3 linked regions of the Homo sapiens genome follow. The protein of the gene in region 1 interacts with the protein of each later gene in a pairwise test. Each region holds a gene or a part of one and is shown in the gene's direction. Other genes may lie near its edges.

Region 1 (3,752 bases):
TTGGTTACAGCTCGGCGTTTGCCTTATTTGAACACAGTTGGAACAGTTGGCCGCATTTGATTGGCCAAAACTCGGTGATTGGCACAAGAGTAGGCTACAGTCTGTTTACACCTCCACTTGTATAGTTCAGGATTTACAGAGAAACCTTTAGGCCAAATTTAAATACGTAAGGAGGTAGCTTTAGGCTAAACTTGATTTAACATAATAGATCAAAAGGTTAACACTTATTTAATCTCCATGGGGGATGCATAAGTATATTTCATATTAATTATTATGCTAGCCTTTGTTTCTGAAATGTTGAATAAAAGCCAAATAAATGCTATTAAGATAATACACACAAAAATGAATGGAGGGAGTTAGTTTAACTACCATACTTCTCTGGCAGTGTACATAATGTATGAAGTTCTGTATGTGTTTGTATGTAGTGAAGTTTGAAGGACTTTTGGGGAAAGAAAATGTAGTAGACAGGATCTTATCCACTGAGAAAAATGTCGCCTCCAAATGCAAGTATTGGCATATCATTTCTGGTTTTGTTTTGTTTTGTTTTGTTTTGTTTTGTTTTTAAGAGGGAGTCTGGCTCTGTCACTCAGGCTGGAGTGCAGTGGCGCGATCTTGGCTCACTGCAAGCTCCACCTACCGGGTTCGCGCCATTCTCCTGCCTCAGCCTCCTGAGTAGCTGGGACTACAGGCGCCTGCCACCACGCCCGGCTAATTTTTTGTATTTTTAGTAGAGATGGGATTTCACCGTGTTAGCCAGGATGGTATCGATCTCCTGACCTCGTGATCCGCCCCTCTCGGCCTCCCAAAGTGCTGGGATTACAGGCGTAAATCACCGTGCCCGGCCGGCATATCATTTCTAAAGCAGAGCAGTGACAAGGGGCCCTGCCTGTAGCTTCATACTGTCGGTGACCTGACACCCCCCTCACCTTATCCTGCAGAGGCTCCTGGTGTCCCGCAGGGTACTATCCGAGAGCGGGGTGACGGGGATCTCCTGAGCTTGCCCTGCCTTCCGTTTCAGCTCCGCTCCTCCAGCAGGGTGCAGCCTGGGAACATGAGAGAACCCACACTGCATCCAGCTGTTCCAGCCCCATTCTCTGGGGACACTGAAAAACAAATCAGATGCCACTAAGACTCCATTTATTATTATTTTTAAAATTGATAATTCATATATAATCAAATTGCTCTTTTAAAGTTTACAGTTCAGTTGATTTGTTATATTCAAAAGTACAATTATCACCATTAATTCCAGAACGTTTTCATTACCCCCCAAAGAAACTCTATACTCATCAGCAATTACTCCCCATTCTCCACTCCCCACTCTTCCACCAACCACTAATCTACTTTCTGTCTCTATGGATTTGCCCATTCTGGACATTTCATATAAATGGAATCATACTGTATGTATCTGGCTTCTTTCACTTAGAAGAATGTTTTCAAGATTCACTCATGTTGTAGGATCTGTCAGTATTTCTTTCATTTTAGAGTTCTTAATAATATTTGAGTGTATAGGTATATGACCTTTTGTTCATCCAGTCATTAGTTTATGGACAGTTGGGTACTTCTACCTTTTTTTTTTTTTTTTAATGGAGTCTTACTCCATTGCCCAGGCTGGAATGCAGTGGCACGATCTCAGCTCACTGCAACATCCACCTCCCGGGTTCAAGCAATTCTCTCGTCTCAGCCTCCCGAGTAGCTGGAACTACAGGTGTGTGCCACCACGCCTGGCTAATTTTTGTATTTTTAGTAGAGACAGGGTTTCACCATATTGCTCAGGCTGGTCTTGAACTCCTGACCTCATGATCTGCCCGCCTTGGCCTCCCAAAATGCTGGGATTACAGGCATCAGCCACTGCGCCCGGCCCTACCTTTTAGCTCTTATGAACAATGCTACTGTAAAGATGTATACAAGTTTCCTTATGGACATATGTTTCAATATTCTTATGTATATACCTGGGAGTGAAATTCTGTGGTCATATGGTTATGCTGAAACTGCAAAGCTATTTTCTAAAGTGGCTGCACCATTTTACAGTCCCATGAGCAATGTGTGAGGGTTCTAATATCCCCACGTTCTTATCAACACTTTTTCTTGTCCATCTCTTTGATTATAGCTACCCTAGTGGGCATGAAGTGGTCTCTGGTTGTGGTTTTGATATGCATTTTCCTGATGACTAACGATGTTGAGGAACTTTTCATGCATGTATTGGCTTTTTGTGTATCTCTGGAGAAAAGTCTGCTCAAATCCTCAGCTCATTTTTAAGATCGGGTTGTCTTTTCATTGTTGAGTCGTACGAGTACTTTATATATTCTAGATACATGTCTCATTTAAGATACATGTTAGCAAATATTTTCTCCCATTTTGTAGTTTGTATTTTTACTTTCTTGATAATGTCCTTTGAAGCACAACAGTTTTTTCAAATAGCAGAAGGGAGAATTTTGAGAGGTTCATATTCTACCATTTTCCCTCATATCACTAAATTTCCATTTTGTAGTTGGTTTTGTTTGGGATCAATTTCATGGCTTACAAAAATGTGTGCTGTCCCTTGAGGAGCTGGCTATCCTTAGGCATAATTTCTTTTTTAATTAAAATGTACTTTTACAAAAGGACATCCTTCAAACATGATTGAAATGTTCCAATGAGTGAAACTCTGAATATGGCAGAGATATTTTGCTAAACCACTCATCTGCTTTTCATCTATGCATGAGACCTGGATGGCTGAGGAGGCACTGACTAAACTCTCTTTTCTTAATAACAGGCGCTAACATTAGATTTGTTGATTTTGGCTGCAAGTTCAACTTTTGGCTAAAGCCCTTGGAAATCTTCCTTTAACAGAATGCAGAGTCTGGATGAGCCATGGACGGAAGAGGAGGGAGATGGCTCAGACCACCCATACTACAACAGCATCCCAAGCAAGATGCCTCCTCCAGGGGGCTTTCTTGATACTAGACTGAAACCCAGACCCCATGCTCCTGACACAGCCCAGGTAAGTCTTATAGTTTTTTTCTTATATAAGGAATGGAGGCTAACTCTACTTTATTTCCTTTTGTTTTCTTTGGTTTTATTTCAGGCTGATGTTCTGTTTCATTTTTGACACAGTAAATCATGAGCTTTCTCTCACTGGATTTCATGAGGCATGCAGATGAAGAGAGGCTTTGGGTTAACATCATAAAGCATTGGCCAAATGCTTTGGAACTGTGTGGTGATTCCTGGGATATGAGTCTGGGGGTGTCCTCTGTACCCTCAGACATATTCCATCATACTGTGATCTCAGTGAGGGAAAGAGAGAATTTAAGATTTTAAAAAGGCTTGGGAGGCATTGGGTTCTCTGAAAAGGAGTGAATATAGACGCTTAAAATGATGAGAATTTTATGAGTTTTCTATTTTATTCATTCCCTTGTTTTATGTCCAACTCAAAATTCTAGTAAGGCAATTGCTTTCTAGAGTTATGATATTTCTGTTTTGTTATAGGAAATTTTTTAACGTTACTACCTTATGTGAATGATAATGACACCACTAAAAATGGCAAAATAACGTTGAGCTCAGGGATCTGACACTGAGAGGGAATTTCCTGATTTTTTGAAGGAAATTTCCTGGTTTACAGAGTGGACTTGACCAAGTGTGAACGATCATGGGCGTATGTGTTATGTGGGAAGTGTGTTCTGACACATAGATACTCTGTAATTGAAATTTATTTTAGGACATACATATGGAAGAGCTTGATTTACAGTCACACTTCGGGAGGGGTGGGGGGGGTA
Region 2 (3,752 bases), on another chromosome or scaffold:
AAACTTTTGTGTTCATTTAATGTGATACTTTAACACTGAATACCATGCTAATTTGCTTTTAAAACAGGCATTTACACATGTATATATATTTGTGCACAGACAAAAACATCAGGATGAGTGTTACTGCCAAAAATGTAGTCCCTGGTGATCTCTTGGTAATGAATTATGGATTGTGGGGTAACTGCTTTTTGCTGTCTGCTTATCTGTTTTCTTTCCTACTTTTAGTATAACAAGCTTACACTATTTTTGTAAGTTTTAAGGATTATAAAATAAGGACTATTACACTTCCAACAAGGGAAAAGGTTTGTATGCCTCTCTATTGTAGATAAAGTAAAGCCCTAATTTGACTTGGTTTTTCGAACCTCCCCCAGTTGAGGTTATTGCTCCAACTTTATCTCATGCTTCTGTCTCCTAGGCCTGGATCTCGGATGTTAGGGTTTTGCTCCCTAGGCTCCTAACTTCTGTTGTTTTTTCTCTCTGCCTCCCTGCTCCTTTACCCCGTCTTCTTTCCCAACCCAGCACAAATCTGACTTCCCCTAAACAATGCTTCTATTTTCTCCCTGTCTGAAATGTTCTCCCTCTAGATAATTCACAGAAACCATCTTTGAACTAGTTTTATATCCTTCATCGCAACCTGCTTATGACTATATACCTTTCCACTTTACCGTCATTTCACTGTGAATTTCTGCAGGCGAAGGACGGTATTATTTTAATCTTGGAATCTAATGGTACAAGGACATTAAACTTGGGTATGCAATTAATGTTTTGGGATACATTTCACAATTCTTGAAGCACGCACATGACTTTTACTGTCATCTCAAGTCAATGGTCCACTTACCAAGTGAACTATATTCTCCAGTGTTTAGGATGGCTGTTGAAAATATTTTTGAATACAAGTCTTTTAATCATGTAAGTTCCATGTTTAAATTTGTATTGTTTTTGAAGTAAACTCTTTCCTAAATCTTACAGGTGGATGTTGTGCCTCGCCATCTTTATGGTGCTGGACCCTCAGACTCAGGAACCAGAGTTTTAATTGGATGTGTTACTTCTATAAATGAAGATAATATTTATATTAGTAACAGCATTTATTTTTCCATAGCCATTGTTTCTGAAGGTATGATTTATATTTTGAAATATATGATGTAATTCTTAATTTTTTGAGAGGATTTTAGTCCTGGAACAACTTTTACAGTGTACTTGGCTTCAGTCAATGGCTCTTCAGTGTTAGAGGTAGACTGTTCCAATCGAAATTAAGTACAGTATAGGGGCAAATAGACAGTATTATAAATTGTGTGCTGTTGGTTATTGTGTGTTCATTTGTTCAATGCCCTCAGTAATGCCTGGATATACTATTCATTCATATGAGAATTTAATTTCTAATCAAGAAAACAATCCTACAAGTGCATAGAGACACTATTTTTAATACCCTTCAAAGACTATACTTGCAGGCATCATTTCTGTAGTTGGTTACTAGAGAAGTTTCTGTGACAAGGTAGACTACCAAATTTTAAAAGAATACACTTCAAATGCTTCAAACTTAGGATTGGAGATAGCGCCTTGTGGTTGTCTGTTTGTGTGTGTGTGTGTGTGTGTGTGTGTTGTTGTTGAATTCTCTTTGTAATCGGCAGATATATTCTAATATTTAGCTTCTACCCAACGATATTTTTTTGTCTGTTTTGTCTACTGCAGCTGTCGTATAGCTTGGGTATAAATGGAGAGATTAGCTCCGCTTCCCCAGGCAGCTTGCTAGTTTGTTTTCTTGGGTGCAAAAGCAGGATTCTGACCTGCATTTTGTTTGACGATGCTGACTCTGTCTGCTTTGTTGAGAAGAGACTATGAGGGGAAGGGTGGAGTCAGGAAATCAGTCAGGAAAACGTTGTAATATTCCTGGTGAGAGATGATGGAGATGTGAATGAAAATGGAGAAGTGGAAAACCTGAGGATTGAGTTGACTCTGGATATATTTTGAAGTGAGAGAAGAACCCAGGAGGTAATGGATTAGATCTTTGTTGTGGAGGGAAAATGAGTCTAAGGTACCTCCAAAGTTTTTGATTTGAGCAGTTGTGAGAGTGGAGTTGCCAGTTTGTGATGTAGACGACTGAGGCAAACAAAAGTTGGTGAATATGGAGAATACCAACAACTCAGCTTTACACACGTTAGATTGGTGTAAGCATATGGATAATTGACCCTGAGGTTGGTTAGAACTGGAGGCATATACATTTTGGAGTTATAAGCATATAGATATATGTCAAATCCACACAAAAGAAATGTATGTAAATTATCAGAGAGAGAGAGAGAGAGAGAGAGAGAGAGAGAGAACAGGTCTAACACAGTGTCTTATGTCATTCTACAGTGTTGGGTCCTAAGGTGAAGAAATGTTTAACTTTGTTGATATCACTAGTTTTCATTGTGGCAATTTACTGTCTCAGTTGCAGTTGGGATTTCCACTTGCTCCAGATTCTTTCACGTAACTTTGTTATCCTGTGACTCACTTTTAACTTATTGCAAACTTCTGTTTGAAACTTGATGGTCTTAACTGTAACCTGTAAGGCACATACTTAAGAGTTCATTAGTTGAACACAACACCAGGGGAAATTGATTCATTCTGAAAGTAACAACATTTCCTAGCGGTACTGCTACCACTACTACCAATCAACAGTTATTTGGTGGTTGCTATGCGCCAGCGATGATTCTGTGCGTATCACACATATCAACTAATTCTCAAGGCAGCTGTGTACCATGAAGGCTACTTACTGTGCTTCTCATTTTATAGATGAAGAAATCGAGGCACAGACAGATTAACCACCTTGGCTAAGGTTGCCAACTGAGTGAGTGGCAGTGTCAAGATTCGAAGCCACATAGCCAGGTTCAAACTTGTGCTCTTACCTATATGTTTGACTGCCTCTCACTAAGCAATTGTGAACACTAACAGTTGTTTAGTAAATCCTGTGCTGCTCCCTCATATTGGCTGTGATGCATGCTTCACACTTTCCTCCATTTAAATTTGTTAAATCAGTAGAGGAGAATCAATGCCTAAGGATTATAAACTTCTTTTTGGACTTAGAGATTTGTAGTGTCTGTTTAAATATGCACAAAATGGACTTTAGATTTAGCAGAACTGACTTTAAAGTAGTACACTATCAAATAACATGTGAAATTAAAAGTGACCTAGTTAAGAGATCATGACACTCACATTTCTCCATGGCTGTTTTAGATTTTGTGCCTTATAAGGGTGACTTGTTAGAAGTTGAATATTCCACTGAGCCAGGCATCTCAAACATCAAGGCAACTTCTGTGAAGCCCATCCGTTGTATTCATACGGAAGAGGTAATTTCTTTCCTGTTGCTCCCGTCAGCAGTTTCTGCTAACTCTTCCTTTGGTGATAATTTACGTGACCAGGATTCTGTTGGGTATAATGGGAATTCCAGAAAATATGAAGAAATACATTCTTTGCCAACAAAGGAGCCACTTTTCTTATTGAAAAGGCAGAATTTTCCAAAGGAAATAATTAGAAAATTATATAGAACAAGCACATGATTAAGTTCTAAATTGTGCATTTTACTCGATACCCAAATGTTATTAGAATCTTCCAAGGACAGGAGGAAGAAAAACAATCTTTGTGCCAGAAAACTATAGGGAAAGAATGAACGGAGTGTGTTGTGGGACTTGAGCTGACCAGTAGATGCTAAGAATGATTTGGTTATTAAAGCCTGAATATGCACAGGCAATTCAAGGCAACAGAGGGTAATGGAC
Region 3 (3,752 bases), on another chromosome or scaffold:
ACTTCTGAGGGAGCAAAGGAAAGAATGATGGGAAAAAGGTACAAGGAGACTTCAGGCTCTATTGGGCTGAAGGTCCCAGCTCCACTGAACTTAAATCTAAGTTTACAACCCAGAGAGCAGCTCGGTGGTCAGAGCACTGCTGAGCCCTACTGCCCCTGGTGGGTCAGGGTTGTTGCAGGACTGGCTCCCTCTCACTGCTCTCTGGACTCATCATTTTATCTTTCCTAAAACTCAGGCTTGGTCAAGTCACTCATCTCCAATAAAATCTTTGCTGCCTCCCCTTTATAAAATACAGATTCTTCAGTCTGGCATTCCAGGGACACCTCTGTAGTCTGACCTGAACCCACCTGCCCATGCCTACCGTTCGTAAATCTCAGTGTGCACCCAATGATCCAGTCACCAAGCCTCCCTCTGCTCCCTGCACAGGTAAGCTCTCCAGCTCAGCACTTCAGTCTGCTACCCTTAGGCCTGGGCTATTCTTTTTTATTTTATTTTATTTTTATTTTTTTGAGACGGAGTCTCATTGTCGCCCAGGCTGGAGTGCGGTGGCGCTATCTCCGCCCACTGCAACCTTCACCTCCTAGGTTCAAGCAATTCTCCTACCTCAGCCTCCCAAGTAGCTGGGATTACAGGCATGCGCCACCACGCCCGCCTGATTTTTGTATTTTTAGTAGAGACAGGGTTTCCCGTGTTGGCCAGGCTGGTCTCCAACCACTGAGCTCAAGTGAACCACCCGCCTCGGCCTCCCAAAGTGTTGGGATTACAGGCGTGAGACATGTGCATCTGGTTTTCCTTATTGAAAAATATTTCCCATTCAATTTAAAAGCTGTCTCCCTGAGGCCTTCTCCAGCCTTTGTATTCTGAATTTTTCTGCATTCCTCAATAGTCATTATCCTTGGAATGAATACAATTCCAATAACTTTTCACTATTTTCAGGGCTACCTCTCCTAGTAGACTGTAAGCTCCTTGAGGGCAGACGCCAGGTTTCTGGCACTCAGCCCAATATCTGGCACAGAGTAGGTGCTCGGTAAATGCCTGTGAAGTAGCCCATAGACTCCCTTACGCGGTCTGCAGGACATGCTGCTCTCCTGGCAGCACCAGCACAGTCTCTAAATGCTGCCATATGCGAGATATGTGTCAACCGCTCAAGCAGCCCCGGCCTTCTTGAGCGCTCCGCTTCTCAGCCAGGTGCTTATTTTGCCAGTGCCCACGCCCAGTCAAGAAGAGGACCTAAGGGCTCCCCTGGATGTGTTTGTTTCAAACACACCTTCAGCTTTGGAGCTGCAGTTTTCTTCCGACCTGCTCGGCAGGCGGGAGGGAGCTTTCCCCTGAGGCTGGGATCCCATAGGGACCCGCACCCTGCACCCTGCACCCACTGGACGCACCAGCCTCATAAAAAAACTCCCCGCCTCCTTCCCCCCTCCCTTTGTGGACGCGCAGCAATTATTCTGCCCATTGCCGTGAAAAAGAAGACAAAAGTTACTTTGGCGCCCCCTCTCCCACACCTAATACAGAGGATTCAGGGACTCTCTGGCGCTTCCAGAGCCTGTGTTAGGGACAGAATCCGCACTGGCGACGGCGCTCCGACTGCGCTTCTGGCGACGGTCGGAATTTTGCTCGGCCCCTTGCAATGTTTCCATGGGAAGGTTCGTACATTCGTGACCGTCCCTGGCAGCGGCCCAGCCCGGGACTTGGCGCTTCACTCGCCATTGGTCAGTCCTCGGCGTGACGCGCAGGGGGGCGGGGCCTCATCAGCTGTTTGCGGGATGCCCCGAGCAGGCGTATTTTGGAAACAATACCGCACCGTGCGGAGTGGCCTCCTCCCGCCCCGGCCTGTGCCCGCCGCCGCCGCCGCCCCTGCCTGCGCCTCCCGCCTCCTGCCGCAGCCCGGTGAGCGCCCGGGTGGCCGCCGGGGGCCGGGCGGAGTTGGATCGCAGCTCCTTGGGGAAGTGGGGAGCGGAGTCGCGCTGCGCACGGGGGCCCGGGAAGGGTTTGGGCTGCGGACGTCTGGGGTGACCATGAAGAACTGGGGCGCTGGGGTGAGGGAACGGGGTGCAGAACCCACAGTTGGGTGCGCTGCTCCAAGAGGGAACTTGGGGGTAGCATTTGGGACTCGAAGGAGTTGGGTCCAGGTAGGCAGGGGAACCTGGGGTGCACTGCTGAGCAGACCTGGGCGCCCGAGAACGGCCCAGCCTCTGGGTCTGACTTTGGGATAGGACAGGAGCTGTGGGGCATCCTGCCTCTCTGCGGAGTCTGAAGGCTCCTCTCCTTAACAGCTGGGCTTTTTCCCTCCTTCCCAATCGAGTCTGGGCGTCCAGCCCCCGAGTGCTCGTCACGCTGGACCCTGGCGCGGAGCCCTGGCATCACGACTCGGAGGCCGAGACTCTCTCCTGGAGTCACCCAGGTCTGGGGTGTGTGTGTGTGTGTGTGTGTGTGTGTGTGTTCCTAGTCACTGTCGAGGATCTGGGTGTCTGACTACTGCCTTCTCCTAAGAGGAGGAGGAGTCTAAGTTCAGCATCCCTCTTCCAGCCCTTAGGGGTTGGGATGGCTGCAGCGGGGCTTGAGTTCCTTTGCTAGGAATAAAGCATTCCCTGGCCCTGTTCTCAGGAAGTGCCCTCCTCCTCCCACCGCTCTGGACATCACCTCTTAAGCTCAGGAGAAAAATTTCACCCTCTCTTAGTTTACCCTTGACCTTGGCCAGCACCCCTCCAGAGGCGCCCACCTACAGGCAAGCCACCTACAGTTTGTGGAGCGTGAGAGGGGTCCCTGGGGCTTGCAGAGCCACACCTTCTGGCTGCACCTCCCCCACTGTCCAGTCCAGGCAAAGGTTGAACTTTGGGGCTTTGCTGGGAGGGGGAGGGGAAGGTGATAGGCTTCAAAGGAAAAACCAAGACAATGACTCGTGCTGGTGATTGGCTTTGAGGGCCCCTTCTTAGGTCAAGATTGCTAGCCTGAGAAGAGGAGGTTGGAGAGCTGGAGGGGAGCCCCTGCCAGGTGACTGGCGGGACAGCACTTGGTCCTTTCATCAGGAAATTTTGTTTCCTGTTGTTAATAAGCTGGAGTGCACCACCTCACCCCCCTCCCCATACACACACACACACACACACACACACACACACACACACACACTTGGGAAACACGGTCCAAAGAACACCACGTGGCTGCTTGCCATCCTAGCAGGCATCTCCTCATTCTCCAGGGAAGAGGGCACAGACAGGACCATAGACAGCTCAGGGACAGGGATGGGATGGGACGAAGGCAGGGCCCAAGCAAGCAGCTCACAGCTTGTGTTTGGCAAAGGCAGCATTCTGAATTGAACTGAGATTCTTTTAGCTACTTCACCAATCCATAGACCATTTGGCTTGTTCTTCAAAGGCAAGAGACTAGGGGACAGAACCCCCAGGAATCTCTAATTGAGTCTGACAAGAATGAAATTCATCTCTTTTTATCCTTAGCTGTTCAGGTGGTTGCTGCTTCTGGCTGCTGCAGGGGCCCTAAGCAGTTCCTGGTATGTGTAGGGAGCTGGGTTGGAAGCTTAAGATGCTGAGTAGCTCCAAGCTCAGACTTTCAAGAGCCATCAGGTGGAGCAAGAGGAACTTCTTTATCACCAAGAAACTCATATCAATAACTTCAGCAGTATAGGCAGTGAGTGAGGTCACAGGGAGAGGGCTGAATTTCACTTCCTTCTGTAAGACCAGTTGTACCAGTCTCAGGTTCAGAGCTGGCAGGAGCGGGAGGCTGTGGAATCAGGG

The links.
Region 2: the proteins of SHC3 (region 1) and CT55 interact in binary tests that used the Homo sapiens proteins (3 or more experiments, as listed by UniProt).
Region 3: the proteins of SHC3 (region 1) and BMF interact in binary tests that used the Homo sapiens proteins (3 or more experiments, as listed by UniProt).

The regions. Positions count from the first base shown.
Region 1 is NC_000009.12:89,046,072-89,049,823, reverse strand, and holds part of SHC3 (SHC-transforming protein 3), read left to right. Parts: intron 1-2,829; coding exon 2,830-2,980; intron 2,981-3,752. UniProt on the Homo sapiens protein: Signaling adapter that couples activated growth factor receptors to signaling pathway in neurons. Involved in the signal transduction pathways of neurotrophin-activated Trk receptors in cortical neurons.
Region 2 is NC_000023.11:135,157,773-135,161,524, reverse strand, and holds part of CT55 (cancer/testis antigen 55), read left to right. Parts: intron 1-969; coding exon 970-1,114; intron 1,115-3,213; coding exon 3,214-3,326; intron 3,327-3,752. UniProt on the Homo sapiens protein: Plays a role in spermatogenesis, possibly acting in the regulation of the autophagy pathway.
Region 3 is NC_000015.10:40,106,911-40,110,662, reverse strand, and holds the start of BMF (bcl-2-modifying factor), read left to right. Parts: upstream 1-1,783; 5' UTR 1,784-1,890; exon of another isoform or gene 1,891-2,039; intron 2,040-2,276; 5' UTR 2,277-2,404; intron 2,405-3,696; exon of another isoform or gene 3,697-3,752. UniProt on the Homo sapiens protein: May play a role in apoptosis. Isoform 1 seems to be the main initiator.